Linked DNA regions of Homo sapiens: region 2 is linked to region 1. The links come from fine-mapping of genetic effects on gene expression. A gene starts in region 1. The other region holds a variant in brackets. All regions are shown on one strand. Distances are between the middles of the regions.

Evidence for each region.
Region 2: its variant is fine-mapped to the expression of SNHG28 in lung (TOPMed, PIP 0.95).

The regions. Positions count from the first base shown.
Region 1 is chr1:159,850,893-159,859,222 of GRCh38, reverse strand. SNHG28 (small nucleolar RNA host gene 28) reads left to right here and starts at 4,186. Exons shown (of 5, transcript NR_147125.1): 1 at 4,186-4,466. It overlaps VSIG8 (V-set and immunoglobulin domain containing 8), which reads left to right. Exons shown (of 7, transcript NM_001013661.1): 2 at 311-489; 3 at 932-1,133; 4 at 1,257-1,478; 5 at 2,580-2,699; 6 at 3,142-3,340; 7 at 4,197-4,907. The coding sequence ends at 4,470. LOC124900450 (small nucleolar RNA SNORD64) reads left to right here and starts at 7,251; the gene lies at 7,251-7,317. LOC107985216 (a long non-coding RNA gene) reads right to left here and starts at 4,376. Exons shown (of 2, transcript XR_001738263.2): 1 at 4,255-4,376. RefSeq lists a silencer at 4,164-4,573.
Region 2 is chr1:159,828,847-159,837,176 of GRCh38, reverse strand. SLAMF8 (SLAM family member 8) reads right to left here. Exons shown (of 5, transcript NM_020125.3): 2 at 6,985-7,311; 3 at 3,996-4,301; 4 at 3,808-3,915; 5 at 1-1,993. The coding sequence ends at 1,917. It overlaps SNHG28 (small nucleolar RNA host gene 28), which reads left to right. Exons shown (of 5, transcript NR_147125.1): 5 at 1,022-2,699. Among named protein-coding and RNA genes, the nearest start is that of SLAMF8, 6.1 kb to the right of the region's middle. The variant T/G (reference allele first, on the strand shown) is at 4,340.

The sequences.
Region 1 (8,330 bases):
AGCCACAAATACTCATAAGCATACAATGTACATACGTGTACATATTCATACATGCATACACATAATCATATATACATACAAGCATACATAACAGCTACATATATAACAGCTATATGTATAGCTGTTATATGCCTGTGACAATTCATGCACACACACATACACACCCACTACGAGCAGCCCTCCTTTTTATGAAAGCACTGCTGACCTCTGGGTGCCGTGGACAGAGAATATGAAGGGAAGGGCTGACACTGACTCCTCCTGAAGCCCTGCTTCTGCTCCTACCACCCCATCTTCTCTGCCCTCCCCCTAGCACTGCTGTCTGCTGTGCGGATCAACGGGGATGGACAGGAGGTCCTGTACCTGGCAGAAGGTGATAATGTGAGGCTGGGCTGCCCCTACGTCCTGGACCCTGAGGACTATGGTCCCAATGGGCTGGACATCGAGTGGATGCAGGTCAACTCAGACCCCGCCCACCACCGAGAGAACGTGGTGAGTGCTGGGCACAGGGGTCTCCTTCCTCTAGGCTTCATGATGTCTACCTGTTGGACAGCCAACATCCCAAAGGGAGAAGACTGACCTTGAACCTCCCCCAAGGCCTTTCAGGGAATGAGGCAATGGGGATGAGAGCTCTGCAATTGTGAATTAAGCTAGCCAGTCAGTCTACCTCCTCCCATCCCATTCTAAAAGGAAGATAAGTTGTAGTCTTTGCCTTCAAAAAGTTCCCAGTCTGACCATATATCTTTCCAAGTGCTTGATCTCACCTGATCTCACCAGTTCTGTAAGAGGTCAGTGGCTCAGGCATCATTATTCTCATTTTTTCAGCTGAGAAAAGAGTCTCAGAGAAGTTCAGTGAATTGCCCAAAGCAGCCAATCCACATGGCCCTTCTTGGCTCTGCCTGTTTCACCACCTGTTTTCCTCTCCTCTTCACAGTTCCTTAGTTACCAGGACAAGAGGATCAACCATGGCAGCCTTCCCCATCTGCAGCAGAGGGTCCGCTTTGCAGCCTCAGACCCAAGCCAGTACGATGCCTCCATCAACCTCATGAACCTGCAGGTATCTGATACAGCCACTTATGAGTGCCGGGTGAAGAAGACCACCATGGCCACCCGGAAGGTCATTGTCACTGTCCAAGGTATGGCCAGACTCCTCTAAGCTCCTCTCCCCCTGGCTTAAGAGCCAAGGGCAGCTTGGCCACTTTGAGCCTGGCTCTGTCTCTTGGCTGGGCCCTGGCTTACAATTGTCTGCCTCCTTGCAGCACGACCTGCAGTGCCCATGTGCTGGACAGAGGGCCACATGACATATGGCAACGATGTGGTGCTGAAGTGCTATGCCAGTGGGGGCTCCCAGCCCCTCTCCTACAAGTGGGCCAAGATCAGTGGGCACCATTACCCCTATCGAGCTGGGTCTTACACCTCCCAGCACAGCTACCACTCAGAGCTGTCCTACCAGGAGTCCTTCCACAGCTCCATAAACCAAGGTGAGAGGGCCCTGGATGAGGGCAGTCGGGGGTGAGTGGAAGATCAGGGACTCTGGGACCTGTTGGGGTTTCCTTGGGTTATCAGTGCCATCAAATCAAACCTGGAATCCCTGTGGGAGACCCTCCCTCTGGGCCTGCCCCAGCAGCTGCTATTTTTTTTTTTTTTTTTGAGACAGAGTTTCGCTCTTGTTGCCCAAGCTGGAGGGCAATGGCATGATCTCGGCTCACTGCAACCTCTGCCTCCCGGGTTCAAGCGATTCTCCTGCCTCTGCCTCCCGAGTAGCTGGGATTACAGGCATGCACCACCGCACCTGGCTAATTTTTTGTATTTTTAGTAGAAACGGGGTTTTACCATGTTAGCCAGGCTGGTCTCAAACTCCTGACCTCAGGCGATCCGCCCGCCTTGGCCTCCCAAAGCGCTAGGATTACAGGCGTGAGCCACCGTGCCTGGCCCAGCAGCTGCTATTGAGAGCAGATGATAAGGCAAATGTGGAGAGTCAGTCAAAAGTACTATGGCGAATTTGGAGGGAGCCTGGTCTCAGACAGAGCTGGGCTTGAATCCTGGCTGGGACACTGACTGGCTCCAAGTTTAAGGCAAGTGGCTTACCCTCCCTGTGCCTTAATTTCTTCATATATGGAAAGGGAATACTAACATATACCTTTCATGGGCATGCAAGGATTAAATGGGGGAGGTGTGTAAAGCTCCTAGTACATAGAGAAGCTGAAAATATTCAGTCAAACAAAGAATAATAGAGCTAGGAGGGACCTTAGAGTTCCTCTTCCCCTGGCTTCTCCTGTCCTCACTGTACAAAGGAGGAGACCAAGGCTCAGAGAGCGTACATATTTCCCTAAGGTCAGAGTGAATTAATGGTGTCCCTGTCTTGCTGCTGGGAGAGAGGTCCTTTCTTGCATCTCTTTCACAGCAGGGGGAAGGTGACTCACCTGGAGAGTGGAGTGTGTGTGTGTGTGTGTGGGTGTGGGTGTACACACATGCATAAGCCTTCCCTTCTTCTAGAGTGGGTGTCCCATCCCCCACCCCACAGGGACTGAGGTTGGGGTGGGAGCTCTCAGAGACCAGGCCTCTCTCCACTTCACTTTCAGGCCTGAACAATGGGGACCTGGTGTTGAAGGATATCTCCAGAGCAGATGATGGGCTGTATCAGTGCACAGTGGCCAACAACGTGGGCTACAGTGTTTGTGTGGTGGAGGTGAAGGTCTCAGGTAGGTGCAGCAGTCTTGAGGGCTGGGTGGTTGGGAGGGTTGAACTGGAGGAGGCTGGGCTCTGGTTTGGAGCCTCAGCTGCTTCTGCCTTTCCACTGCCATCCATTTGCCAGTGGGGGCTCCCAGCCCCTTTCCTACAAGTGGGCCAAGATCAGTGGGTACGATCTTGACCCTATTGAGCTGGGTCAAGCTCGCCCAGCACAGCTTCCACTCTGAGCTCTAGAGCCCAGAGCAGCTGGAAGCCCTGGGAGAAGCATGCTGACACGAGGGGTTAACTTGCATCTCCCCATATCTTCCCCACTGGGTGTTCCAGGGCTAAGAGACCCCCTGGGTCCCTCTCCCTCTTTCCCATTAACCCCTGACCTGGCACCTCCTGGTGCTGTTCCCTCAGGCACCTGCCAGGCTGTGAGAAAGCCTGACCTGCCTCCACTTCTCTCCACAGACTCCCGGCGTATAGGCGTGATCATCGGCATCGTCCTGGGCTCTCTGCTCGCGCTGGGCTGCCTGGCCGTAGGCATCTGGGGGCTCGTCTGCTGCTGCTGCGGGGGCTCCGGGGCTGGCGGCGCCCGCGGTGCCTTCGGCTACGGCAACGGCGGCGGGGTCGGCGGAGGGGCCTGCGGCGACTTGGCTAGTGAGATCAGGTAAAACCTGATGCATGCTGCATGCTGCTGTGCGGCAGGGAACCGGCGCCCTGCCCACCTCACTCCTGCCTGCCACCGGCCGGCTGGGCCCCCCACCCCAACCCTGCCCGCCATCGCCACGGAGTGCTGGGACTGCGGCATGTCGACCTGCCACCCAACTCATGGCTTTCCCCTCCCCCTGCCACCCCAGTCTTCACCTCTGCTCCCTGCCTTCCATTTCCCTCCTGCCTACGCACCTGTCTGTCTTGTCTAGACTGTAAGCTCCTGGAGGGCAGGGCCTATGTTTTTTCACGTTTCCCCTGTACTGCGCCGGTAAGAACTCTGACATTATTATTTAAGAAGAGCTAATAATAAGAATAGTGCTAATAACTTATATTAGAAGCAAACTAGAAATAAAAATAGAACAAGTCTAGTAGTGCTAATGATTGCAATGCCTCGGGGATGGAGGGAAAGATGGAGAAGACTGAGGGGCAGGAGGTGAGAAAGAGAGAGATTGCTCGAGCAAGGTCAGGATTAGCTAAGGAAAGAAGAAGAGGAAAAGCACCTTCTTCTGGGCCTGCGAAACATCAGAAAGGGATTGCAGGGGCCTGGAGGGGGCTGCCTGCAGGGCTCTCCAGATACGCGTGGACAAGCCCTGTCTGGAGGATGGGGATGCTGGCTCCGGGACCGCTGCAGGGTCGCCGACCCAGGAAGGGTCACAAAGGACAGTAGGTCGAGGCCGAGGGAGAGAGACGAGGGCAGGTGGAGGGAGGCGCGGGAGACAAGAGGTTGCCAAGAGCCCCCGGCTCTGCCCAGGCCGTGCCCACGCCCCGCTGCGGAGCAGCCCGCTCACCCGCCCGCCTGTTGTTTTCCACAGAGAGGACGCCGTGGCGCCCGGGTGCAAGGCCAGCGGGCGCGGCAGCCGCGTCACCCACCTCCTGGGGTACCCGACGCAGAACGTCAGCCGCTCCCTGCGCCGCAAGTACGCGCCTCCCCCCTGCGGCGGCCCCGAGGACGTGGCCCTGGCGCCCTGCACCGCCGCCGCCGCCTGCGAAGCGGGCCCCTCCCCGGTCTACGTCAAGGTCAAGAGCGCGGAGCCGGCTGACTGCGCCGAGGGGCCGGTGCAGTGCAAGAACGGCCTCTTGGTGTGAGCGCGCGCGCCGGGCCGGGCTGCGCCCCAGCCAGGAGGAGGGCGCGGGGCTCTCTGTCTGCAGCTGGGGACACGTCGGGGCTGGGGACGACCTCGCTCGCCCCAGGCTGCCAGGCGGCTGGGGGTGAAGGCATTTCCCTAAGGAAATGCGTAGGGAGGCAGAGCCTCCTCCCCAAAAGTGGGAAGGGGCGGGCGAGGGCGGAGGAAGGCGATCCTGAGCCTTCTCCGCACCCCCGGGACCGAAGGCTTGGGGGAGAGGGAGGGAGGAGGAGGCTGAGTGTCCTAGAGCGGCTGAGGCCGGAGGCCTGGTGTCCCCAGCCTAAGCAGAGGGCCCCGGGGGCCGGGTGGGTGGGGGTCTGTCTGGACGAATTGTTCTGTGTGTGAGGTCTGAGCTCTGAGGCAGCAGTGTTAGCACAATAAAGAAACATTGAGACGTGAGTCCGAAGTGGCTGTCCGCGTTCCACGGAGGTTGGGCACGGGGTGGCGAACCCTGCCCAGGGCCGGGGAGGGTTGCTTCTGTCGCTCGCCTCGACCACGCCCCCTCTCCTCCCTCCTGCTTAGATCCCTGGCAGTCAGAGCTGGAAGGGGCCATCCAGGGCAACTCCTCTGAACAACATACAAAGTGCAGATAAAAGGAAAACAAAGACAAAAAGAATTAGCTCAGAATATCTACGACCGTAAAATAAACTGAGGAACCGACAAAGTGCAATACACTTGCCATTTCTAAATATTCAAAGTTTTCACATGTCAAGATTTTCTATTGAGAATAATGTGCTCTGAAGGTCTAGGGAGTCTTTGTATGTTGCTGAAAGCTAAAAGGAAACCAGTCCTTGGAGCACAGAAGGCACAGGCATCCGGTGAGACAGAAACAAGGACATGTGAAAATAAGACTACAACCTCTTATATTAAAAAACTAAGTGCCACAGTTCTAGGGTGCTGGGTGAAGTGCAGGAAGGAGGGGGAATAATATTTATATAGCATATATTATGGAACTCGGAGAGTATGGTAAATCCCTTCACCTAGATGCTGCTGGTGTTTTAGAACAATTATTTTTGTGGTTCTTTTTTTTTTTTCATTTGTCTGCAGTTGGTCAACTTGTGCAGAGCCCATTCTGCAGGAGATGTTTGAGAAATACCAAGTGAATGAGTGTGGCAGCATTACTTTATGCTAGAAAAAAAAAGTTTTTAGATATTTTACAGTTACTGCCTTATGATGGAATATTCTGTGGTGAGAATCTAGGCCTTTCTGAGATCCAGCTCCACGTTCTTACACCCTGAAGTAGTCAGCCACTCCTAGATAGGGATTAATTGAGCTATTTAGTATTTACCAGCACTTGTTTTGTTAAACACCTTGTCATGATATTTACAATGTATTTTGGGGGATGTTTTAGTCATTTTTGGTTCAAAAGTGGAAATCAATAAGCACTGTTTTTGTTAATAGGCGCAAGACGTCCTCTCTTGTTTAGTGAGATGGGGAGTGCTTAATTGAAGAGTAATGTTTGAGATAAAGTTCCAAGGATATATTTGCTAAGCAAACAGTAAGTAAAGTGGGCAGTGTTATAGATGTTCCTTTGTTGATAAAGGGACCAGGTGGTCACACAGCAAGGAGGGGGATGCAGACAAGTAGACAAGCTCTACTAATCCTTCTTTGTTCAACATCATCTCTGTTGGGCATTGGAATCTACTTTGCTAATGCAATGCCCACTTGCCTATAATTTAAGAATTTCTAATATGGAATAGAAATGATTAATAGGAGAAGCTTGGCTGGATTAATTTCCTGTGCTGAGAAAGATTAAACTTAAAAAAAAACAGTTAGGTCCATCCTAAATGCCCAAGATTTAAGAAGGAACCTCATAGTTCAACTGGGTATTTGATGAATGTGAATGATTTTGTATTTGATGAGCTGATGAGGACAGTATAGTGATGCAGAGGGTAGGTGCTTGTACATCTGAATTGTCTGGGCTGTTTCTTATTTTATATGTAATTTATTTGTATTTAAAGAGTTCATTTTATGTTAGATTATTTGTGCTTTGGTAGCAAAAATATATTTGAAAGGGTAAGTTCCTGAAATCAGCAGTTTCATGTCTGCTAGGAGACAAGTATCAGGAAAAGTAGTGTGGGTTCTATCATTTCCATGCTACAACTTGGATGGTGTTACCTTACCACTTTGGTCCCTTGTTTCAGGGATGTTAGAACTTAGCTTAGACCTTCCTCAGAATCCTTTTGGACTTTGTGTTTCATTTGTTTGGCCTGCCTTGATTTTATTTGGTCATCCTTCTTGATTCTTTCATATTATTTGTTTACACTTAACTCTGGAATATTTTGGTGGTTGTTTTCAATGTACTGTAGGTCTTTAAATTGGTTTATAATGAATTATTGAGGAGAATAGCAAGTTGTTGACATTATATCTGTCTGTAGTAACATTAGAATATTTCCATTTCAATTTGTTGGGCAATTTGCTTGTGGAAATATAAGATGTTATATTTAGTTCTATCAAAACCAGGATCTCAATATTATTCTTTTGGCAGGTTGCTGCGTGTGTGTGTGTGTGTGTGTGTGTGTGTATGTGTGTCTGTCTGTCTGTCTGTCTGTCTTTGATTTTTTTCCTTCATATTTTCCCCTTAATTCGGTGTCGGTCAATACTGTTGCTGTTTCACATCCATTGTCACATAAAACTAGTCATCTCATTCTCCCAGGCCCCCTGTCCTTGGGAAGGGATGTGCACTCTGCAGGTATTAGTGATTTTATATAGCTGCATGAGTTGCTGGGAAAGGCCTTGGCTGGATTTATAATGAGCTGTGTTTACTGAGCATTATGAAGTAAAGTTCAATATGATTACTCTGAAGTCTGACCTAAAAAAAATCCTACTCCTTCACTATACAGATAGGGAAACTGAGGCCCCTCAGGCTGGACTTTAAATCCCCAATCTTACTTTTCCATTTTATTCTAGAAGGTCAGTTGAGAGGAAACACGGCTCTGTCATGGATGACCTCTAAATGATCCCTGACCATTCTTAGCATCCTTCTTTCTCTTCCCCTCATTGACCTAATCTTGACTTCTTTTATCTCTTTCAGATGTATGCCTTCTTTCTTAATAGCCAGGAAGTGTTTTAGAGTCATACTCTCTGGTGTAGAAAGACCTTCAAGGCCAACTAACCCAGCTCCCCCTTTTGGTGGGAAGGGGATTGGCATTTATTGAGCACCTATTAAGTGTTAGGTGCTTTTTGATTTTTTGTCTTATTTATTCCTTACTTTAGTCCTATGAGGTTGTGTATTATCCCCATTATACAGATGAATAAACTGAGGCTCAGAGGGATTAGGTATCTTGACCAAGGCAACAAAGATAATAAAGATAATTCAGGATTTGATCTAGGCATGTTTGATTCCAGGACAGCAGGCTGTTTCTCTGGCATTTGAATTCCTTCTATAGCATTCCTGACAAAGGGTATGTAACGTCTTCTTGACAACCTCCAATGGCAGCTCACTACCTTCCGAGGCAGGCCACTTGGCCTCTGACTGTCAATATTCAACAGAACATTTCTCTGAACCCGGTTTTTGTCCCCATATAGCTTTTATCCCTTGATCCAAGTTCTACTCTTAGGGACCCCAGAGCATTGTATTTCTAATTCAGCTGCCTCTAGTGGACAAAGTGGTTGCACTCCATACAGGATGGCTGCAACAGGGACACAACTGGACACTTGTCTGGTCTAGTTGGTAGGAGGTGTTCAGAAGAGCACAGTACTTCAAGGTCACTTCGTTCTACTTTCCTTTCCCCAGCTGCTTGCTTGTTGAGAGCCCAGCCTCTTTCTTCTCTCTTTGTCTCTTTTCTCTTGAGGAGAAGCTAGTCTTCCTCATTTTTCCTG
Region 2 (8,330 bases), 22 kb after region 1:
CACTGTCGAAATGAGGTTGCTAAGAGTCACCTTGTGGAGGGAGAGCTGCAGGTCCCATCTCATCCAGAGCTGCTTTGATCTGAGGTGGGGCCCTGGAGATGAACGAAAGAAAGGTGGGGAGTGCTGTGTATTTTTTCCCCACAAATCCACCAGGGCTCATTGTCAGATCCTGGGCTTTCCTTTCCACATCATTTTTAGGGACTGAGGCCAGTTTTGCATGATTCAGTGACCAGGCATGTGGCCTGACTGTAGGTGGCAGGTGGGGATGGTGCAAGCTGACAGGTTGAGTGGCCATGGACCCTGTTCAGGTAATCTTGGGGGAAGGTGATAGGAGAGAAGTGGGTGTGGGAAAGGGATGAGAATTTGATAAAGCCAGGTTACCAACAGGGAACCTCTGAGCAGGCCAGGCAGGGAGGATCTGGGAACAATCGAGTGGAAGAGTGGTGATGTGGATCTGGAGGCCAGCTGTGCTGATCCTTTGTCCAAGGTGAAGTGATTGCCCAGGAACTGGGGAGAAGAGGGAAGGTCCTTGGACAGGGCTGACATCCTAGGTGGGGAGATTGAAGCCACCCTGGGAAAATAGTACTTCAAACCCACCCCTGTTTCTTCAATACCTCTTTCCTCGCTGTTATCAAGACTGGATTGAGGCCCCAGAAAAAATCCAGTTACACCTGGGTGAGAGAAACTGTGAACCTTATCAGCTAATAATCCCCGAAGGTAAGTTTAGCTCCTTAAGTGTTTTTCCAGTAGTGATCAATACTCCAGAGCTTTTCTAGACAGAATCATTCAGGGGCAGAATGTATTTTCCTAAGATGGCCACAATAAAAAGTTTGATGGAGTCAGAGTGACCTCTACAGTCCTGCTGTTGGGCTGTGGGGTCTTTGTCCCCTCCCCTTGAACTAAGGTAAGTCTTCTGCATTTGCATTTGAAAATGAATGTGGCAGATTCTAGAGTGCCTCAGTACCCTTTCTCTCCATAATGTTCCTTCTGCATAGCGTTTTATGGTTCTTCACTCTCTCAGTTTCAGGCAGGAAGACTCATCCTGAGCTGAGCTGCTTTTCTTGAAGTTGTGCAAGAACGTCCTGTTGGCTGGGGCAAATTCAGTATTTCTTTTCCTGGCCACTGTGCTGGAGCGTGAGGAAAGACTCTCCACCCTCACTCCCAGATCCTGCAGGAGGCGTGAGAGCGGATGGAGATGGTGAGGATGTCTATTAATATGGTGTTTCCTGCAAAACGGTGCCCATCTCAACCATGGGTTGTCAACCATCCTCGGTGTCTACAACTGCAATTTACCTTTGAGGGCCCATGAACTCTGATTACCTGAAAGTCCTTAGGCCAGAAAGAGAAACCCCTGTCCCCCACCTCTCACTTTCACCTATTTCTAGACCTTTTCTTACAGCAATGCCTTGGCCCTCAGGAAGCATCAGATCTCAAACTGCAGGGTCTGGGGCTGAAGCTGATGCTGGCATGGGTGACTCAGAGTTCCTCTATTAGTTCAAATATGTAATATCTTTTAGAGCCTAGGACTCAGGCTGGAGGCAATTCCTTGGTGCCAGTTGGTTAATACTTTATGAATAGTGGTGGGGGAGGGAATGCCTTGGACTATTAATGTCCCCATGGATCTGGATCCTGGAGAACTTCCAGTGTCCTGGATGGAATGTTCTGCTTGGCTCATCTTGCCCAGAGAAGAGCCAGGATATGAGAAGATGGGAGAGGGAAGGGGGAGGTGTGAAACGTGCTGGTGCTTCCTGTCCTCGTGGTGTGATGGCTGCCCAGGCTGCTCCTTCGAGGCAGGACAGGATTCCCATGGGAGATATGAGGACCATGGTGATTTCCAGGCACCAGTTATGTCCCAGAGCATCGTGTGCCTGTGCAGTGGGGTTACTGATAGTCCAGGCATCAGTTCATATTGTCCTTTATGGCAGATCCTGCACAAGGGGGTTCTCTGTCTCTGGACCCACTCTGTCAGCATGGACATCCTTTTTCTTTTTCCCTGGTAAGGACATCAGAAAGAAAGTTACCCCTCCAGTGTTTGGAGTCTTGGAATCCTTGGCCTGCCTGCAGGCCTCTGAATCCTCAGTGTGTTAGCCCAAGGTCACCTTAGGTAAAGGAACATTTCTCCTGGTCTTCCAACACCCTGGAAAGGGAGGCTCTTCAAGAATAGGAAATTCTTCCTAGTATCTAACCTTGGCCTGCAACTATGCCATACATTTAATTGTAGAAGGTATGGAAAGTTAGGACTGTGGTGGACCCAGTTAAATCACTGGACAGAAGCCATGAGGCAGAGCCAGAACCAGCTTCTGGACTCCCTGCATGGAGCTTTCTACTATCCCAGGTTGTTGGGTCCCTTCTCAGTGGCCAAAGATGCTATTTTATGAGCCTTGAGGACATGACACTAAGTGAAAAAAGCCTGGCCAAAGGGCCACATAGTGTATAGTTCTATTTATATGAAATGTCCAGGAAAGACAAAAGCATAGAGGCAGAAAGCAGACTAGTGCTGTGGGAGGAATGGGGGATTTGGGAGGTGATGGCTAAGGGGTTATGGGGTTTTGGGGGAGGTAATAGAAATGTTTTAAAATTGGTTGTGAAGGTGGATGCCCAACTCTGCGAATACACTAAAAGGCATCGAATTGTATACTTTAAATAGGTGAATTGTATGCTATGTGAATTATATCTCAATAAAGGTATTTTTTCCCTGCTGTTTTCCTGGCTTCCACTTTCTTATCACAAATCCTGGGGACTCTTGGGGCAGGGGCCAGGGGCCAGGGGCCAGGGCAATACCCTCCCACAGCAGATGGGGCCTTCAGGTGGAGTGCAGGCTCAGCTGTTCCCTCTTGCCCTTCTCTCTGCTGGAGAGAATGAACAGGAATCAGCATTGCCTGTCCCCATGCTTAGAGGCTGGACCCAGACCCTGCCTTCTGGGACACACCCACCATAGTGAGGGCTCAGTGACTCCTCCTTGCTGACTCCCTTTCTCCACCTTGGGACAAGCCAGCTCCGACAGCCTGGCATGGAAATGACCACGGAGCCCTGGTCAGTCGGGTAGTTCTTTCAGGGGCAGGGCATCCTGCGGCAGAGGAAGGGACTGAGCTGTATGTAGAGCTTAGAACCAGGTCTGATCTTGGAGTTTCCCCTTCCTTCCTCTTCTCAAGAAGGCAACCCTATCAGCCACTGGCCAGGGAGTAGCTTATCTTAGGGAGCCATTTTGTAGAAATCTCAGGCAAGAAGGGGTTCGGAGTCATTTAGACTCCCACTCAACAATGTTTGTCGATACCAGCTATGTTTCAGGAAGAGTTGTGTTCTGGGAACCACTGACATGCCCAGTGTTGACCCAGCATCCTCCTTTTAAGGGCTCAGAATTCAGTGGGGAAGTAAATGTAAGTAGTTCTCTGATTGGGGTAAGCAATGGAGATTGAAGAAAGGATGTTAATCAGCCTGAGTATTGGGGCAATCAGGGAAGGCTTTCTGGAGCAAGCACACCTTGAAGACTGAGTATGAGATAGCCACATGAAGGGGGGAGGCTGGGTGGGAAATCATGGAAAGTGTGTTCCAGGCAGAGGGAATACAATGTACAAAGGTCTGCAGATGGATGTGAGAGAACAGTTCATTTGGAGAACCACATAAGAGACTTCAAGTAGTTGAGTCTGGTTGTAAACCAAGATATGAGCTAGAGAAGGCCAAGAGATGAGGTGGGAGAGGTAGGAAGGGGCAGACCATCTGAAGCCTAAATAGGAGGAGGTCCAAGACCCCCTCCTCCCCAGGAACTCCACTTCCTCCACCTACCTCCTGCACCTGCAGGACTCCTACCTGAGCAGGGGCACCAGTGCCAGGCAGAGAAGAGAGTAACCAGCATCAGGAGCAGCGAGACAGGCACCACCACCAGCAGCACATCTTTGTAGGAGGCCTTCCCTGGTGCTGAACATGGAGGGGTGGGGTTAGAGGTGGACTTGATGCTTCATAAGCCCTCAACCACTGACTGCTGGCCCTTAGCATACCTGCCTCATGATGACAGCTATCCCAGGGCGTGACTGTGGCCAAGTCCCAGCTGACAGGGTTGGAGACAATGCAGGAATAGGCCACATCTCTGTCTCCTGGTCCCAGGGAAATGCTCAGCACCTGTCCGTCTGTGAAGAGGCTGTGTGGTTCCATACCAAAGTCCATGGTTGTCTCCCGTCGCCAGCTATAGGTTATTTCGCTGATGTTGGGGGCCCAACAGGACAAGAAAACCTGGCAGGTCTTGGAGGGCTGAGCATCCCTTTCTACAGCAATGAACACTTGTACCACGGGCCTGGGCACTGCATCTGGGAAAGAAAAGTACAGCTGGTATGGGTCTCAGGGA[T/G]GCTGGGCAGGGCCCACATCTCTGGCTCTGGGATCTACCCAGGGTTAGATGCCACCTCTGGCTAGGCCTCTCTTGTTCCAAAATCTTGTCTGGCTTTCCACTGCCCACAGGACAGAAGCTGAATTCCTTAGCTTGATATTCAAAACCTTTCAGGAAACGATTCATGCCCATCTCTCCAGCTGTACCTCCTGCTGCTTCTCCCTGCTCATCCTAATTAATTTGCAGTTTTCCCAAACATGTCATGCTCTTGAATATCTTTCATGCTTTCACATAATTCATCTGCGCACACAGATGCCTTTCCCTTCTTGTCCTCCTAGAAAACTTCTACCCATCCTTCAAGGCCCAGCTTGAACACATTGCTTAATGCCTTGACTGTGAAGCCTTCCCAGGCATGGCTCTGAGCTCTCCAAGCACTCTATCTCTTTTTGTAGTATTTCTCTCACAATATGTCAGTCAGTCAACAAGAGATGACAAGCATTTATTAAGTCAGGCAAGAAAACAAACACATTCCTAGCCTTCTGGAGCTTACAGTTTGGTGAGAAAGACAAATACAAAATGATTATGAATAATTAATTAAATAATTATGAGGGTGCAAAATGCTGTGAAGGAGGGGCCCAGAGGTGGGGGCTCTGTCTTGTTAGCTTAGTAAACTTAGCTCTGTAGTGCTGGCAAATAGTGGGTGCTCGATATCTGGTCACTGAACAAACTGATATCCTGGTGTCCTAGCCATGGATTCCCCTTTCTATACAGGTTGATGAGTAAATCCTGAGTCTCAGTGGAAATGAGGCCAGTGGGAGAGCATTCTGGTGACAACAGGAGGGCTCAGTCTCTGACAGCATTCCAAAGTCAAGCAGAGAAAAACCTCGTTAATGCCAGTTCAGTCTGGTGGGATTTGTGATATGAAAGAGAAATGATTTGCTGGGCACACTAATAGTATAAACAAAGATTACAGGGGGGATATTTACATCACTTAAGAGGACAAGCTGCTTCCAAACACGATCAAGCACAGTAGAAACACCCATTGACATTTCTAGTAACTGATCTGCTAATTCAAATCGTTCTTATCTATTGTCAAAGCAGAACTCCTAAGGACGGCTGCTTGGCAGCTTCGTGCAATTAGTTCTAATCACGCTATGTATTTGGAAGCAATAAAACAGCAATTTCCTTAAAATCTGTAATTCAGCTGCTGAGAACAAGGCATTTTAGAGCTTAGTGGTGTGGGTGCTGCATGTATTATCACATTCAATGTCCTCATTTCACATGTGCGGCAGCTGAGACTCAGATCAGAGGAGGGGCTCCAGGGCTGCCTGTATGGTGGGGTAGGTTATTCACTACACAAGGACATTGGGCTAAGGGGGGTCACAGGGTAACAGGTGGCAGGGGGTGGGGGGTGCTGAAATCCAGCCAGCACTCTGCTTGCCAAGATGAGGCTCAGGGCTGCGTGCATCCAGAAAGGCACCTTGCAATTGCATCGGCACCCTGAGTGGCTCGCCCAAGGACAGCCAGTTAGCTGTCTCGGGGGGATTCAAGACATCTCCCCAATTTGCTTACAATCTTTATCTCCCTCATGGCTACCCTCTTCCCAGCTGCTACCTCTGCTTTCCATTCTTAAATCTGGACTCCCCTCTCTTCCACTCTATCTAAATTTCTAAGGTTTTACTGAAACAGTGATTTAGGGTCACCCATGCCTCTTTTCTAGCCCATTAGGTAGATAAATGAGAGCTGAAAGCCACTCTTTCTTGACCAGAAGACAAATGATGAAGGTGGTGGAGGTGGCTGTGGTGGAGGTGGAGGTGGAGTTGTTGGGAAACAAGGCCCACGCAGCCCCCAGTCCATGCAGCCAACCGAGGTGCTGAATGTAGCTGCGCGAATGGCTCTGCAGACCCATGCGAAGCAGAAGTCGCACCCAGCTGGGCCTGCCAACCCACGGAATTATGAGAAGTAAACATCGTTGTTGTTTTCAGTCAGTAAGTTTTGGGATGGTTTGTTTTGCAATGATGAATGACTGAGAGAACCCATGAATCATATATAGTTAAGATCTCTCTAAGAAGCCCTTTTAAGAAATGTGTAAATTCTATACTTTTAATTACAGTTTCATTATAATTTGATTTTTAAATAAACCCATTATGTCATAGTTTAGTATGGTACATCATTTTTTTTCCTTTAGACTAATGACACATAGTCTACACAGACTACATAGACTACATAGACTAGTGGCACATCTTATAGTCTATGATGATCCTTTAGAACTGAGGAAGCACAGGCCAGGCTCTGTCCTGGATGCCACTGCAAATGCCACTGCATTTCATCCTGTGGGTACTCTACATGGTAATATTACAATGCCCATTTACAAAGGAGAAAGGTGAAGGCCAGGGAGGCTAAGCATTGTGTCCAAGGCCACTGAGCCAAGAAAAGACTGAGCTAGAGTTCAGGCAAGCACTGTGAAATGGCAAAGCCTGGCTGCTGCAGCCAGGAGGAATTTTCTTAGACGTGACTGCCAGGGAGCAGCTGTTCCCTGAGTCGGCAACATGGTCAGAGACCAGAGCTTTCTGGAACCCAGCTCTCCCTGGCTGCTATGACTCAGGATGCTCGTCTGGTGCTTTGTGGGGGAAGAGGGCCAGGCAGCCAGTGTCAGACACACTCACCGTACACCTTGAGCTGGAGGGTCTGGGTCCAGGGCTGGCCCCTTGTGTCCACCATCAACACGGAGAAGTTGCCGCTGTCTCCAGACTCCAGCGGCCCGAGCTCCAGGCTGAGGTTGCTGTGTAGCTGGGCTCGGCCCAGGAAGCGGGAATGGTACAGAGTCTCCAGGGAGCCTCGGAAAAACGTGGCCAGGAGCTCTTCTGAAGGCCAGAGAGATCGCCAGATAGCCTCACGGACTTGGAAGCCAGGGGGACGCGCTGCCACCAGCAGCACCGAGCCCCCGACTTTGCTCAGCACTTGGGCACCAGTAACTGTAATGGGAAGTAGGGCTGAAAGAACAGAGCCCCTGGTCACTCTGCCTGCCCCACACTCCTCATCCTTCTTTGCATGCATCTGAGCTGCTATAGGGTGAATTGGGGCCCCTCCACTGACATTCCCTCCACTCAAGTTGAGGTTGCACTGTGCTAGGTACCAGGGATAAAACATATGGAAGATAACCCCAGTCTCTGCATTCATGGAACTTACAGAGGAAGCCAGACATTCAAGAAATCAATAAAAATGAATTCTGTTAAATACCATGAAGGGAAAAATGAGATGCCCTGGGAGAACACAGGTAGGGTGACAGGGGATCTCACCCAGCCTTGATGGGCTCAGAAAACAAATTGTTAAGCTGAGCCTTGAAGAGGAATGGGAATCAGCCAGGCCAAGCCGAGGGCGGCCTGGAGCAGGATAGGGAAGTGTCACCGGCAGAGGGCACAGTACTGACAAAGGCCTGGAGGGGGAGAGTTGGTGCCCAGGGGAACTGAGAGTAGTTCTCTGTGTGAGGAGTAGGAAATTACACTGCAGAGTTGGTAGGAGTCAGATCATGCAGAGACCTGAAAGCAATACTGGAGTTTGGGCTTTATCTGTAGAGCAATGGGGCGTCTCAGGTAGGTTTTAAGCAGGAGCGTAACAGGATTAGATGCATGGTTAGAAAGATCACTCCAGCAGGGATGTGGAGAATGCACTGGAGGTGGGCAGGACTTAGGCTGTTCATGTTAGTCCAGTGGAGAAGTGACGGCAACTTGAATTGAGGAAGGGAGCAACCGGGATGGGAAGAAGTGGGAGGAATTGAGAAACACGAAGATGGTGTGTAATCAGTAGGATTTGGTAATAGATTAGCTCTGGGGAGTGAAGGAGAAAAAGGAGTCGAGGACGGCTCCCAGGTCCTTGGGATCCACTGGATGTTATTCTCTGTGATCCAGAACAGGAGGAGAAACAGACAGGGGGTGAGAAAGCAAGATGCTGTTTTGGGGGACTATATTTGAGTCAGACGTGTATGGGAGACGCTTCTCCTTGAAGTGCCCCC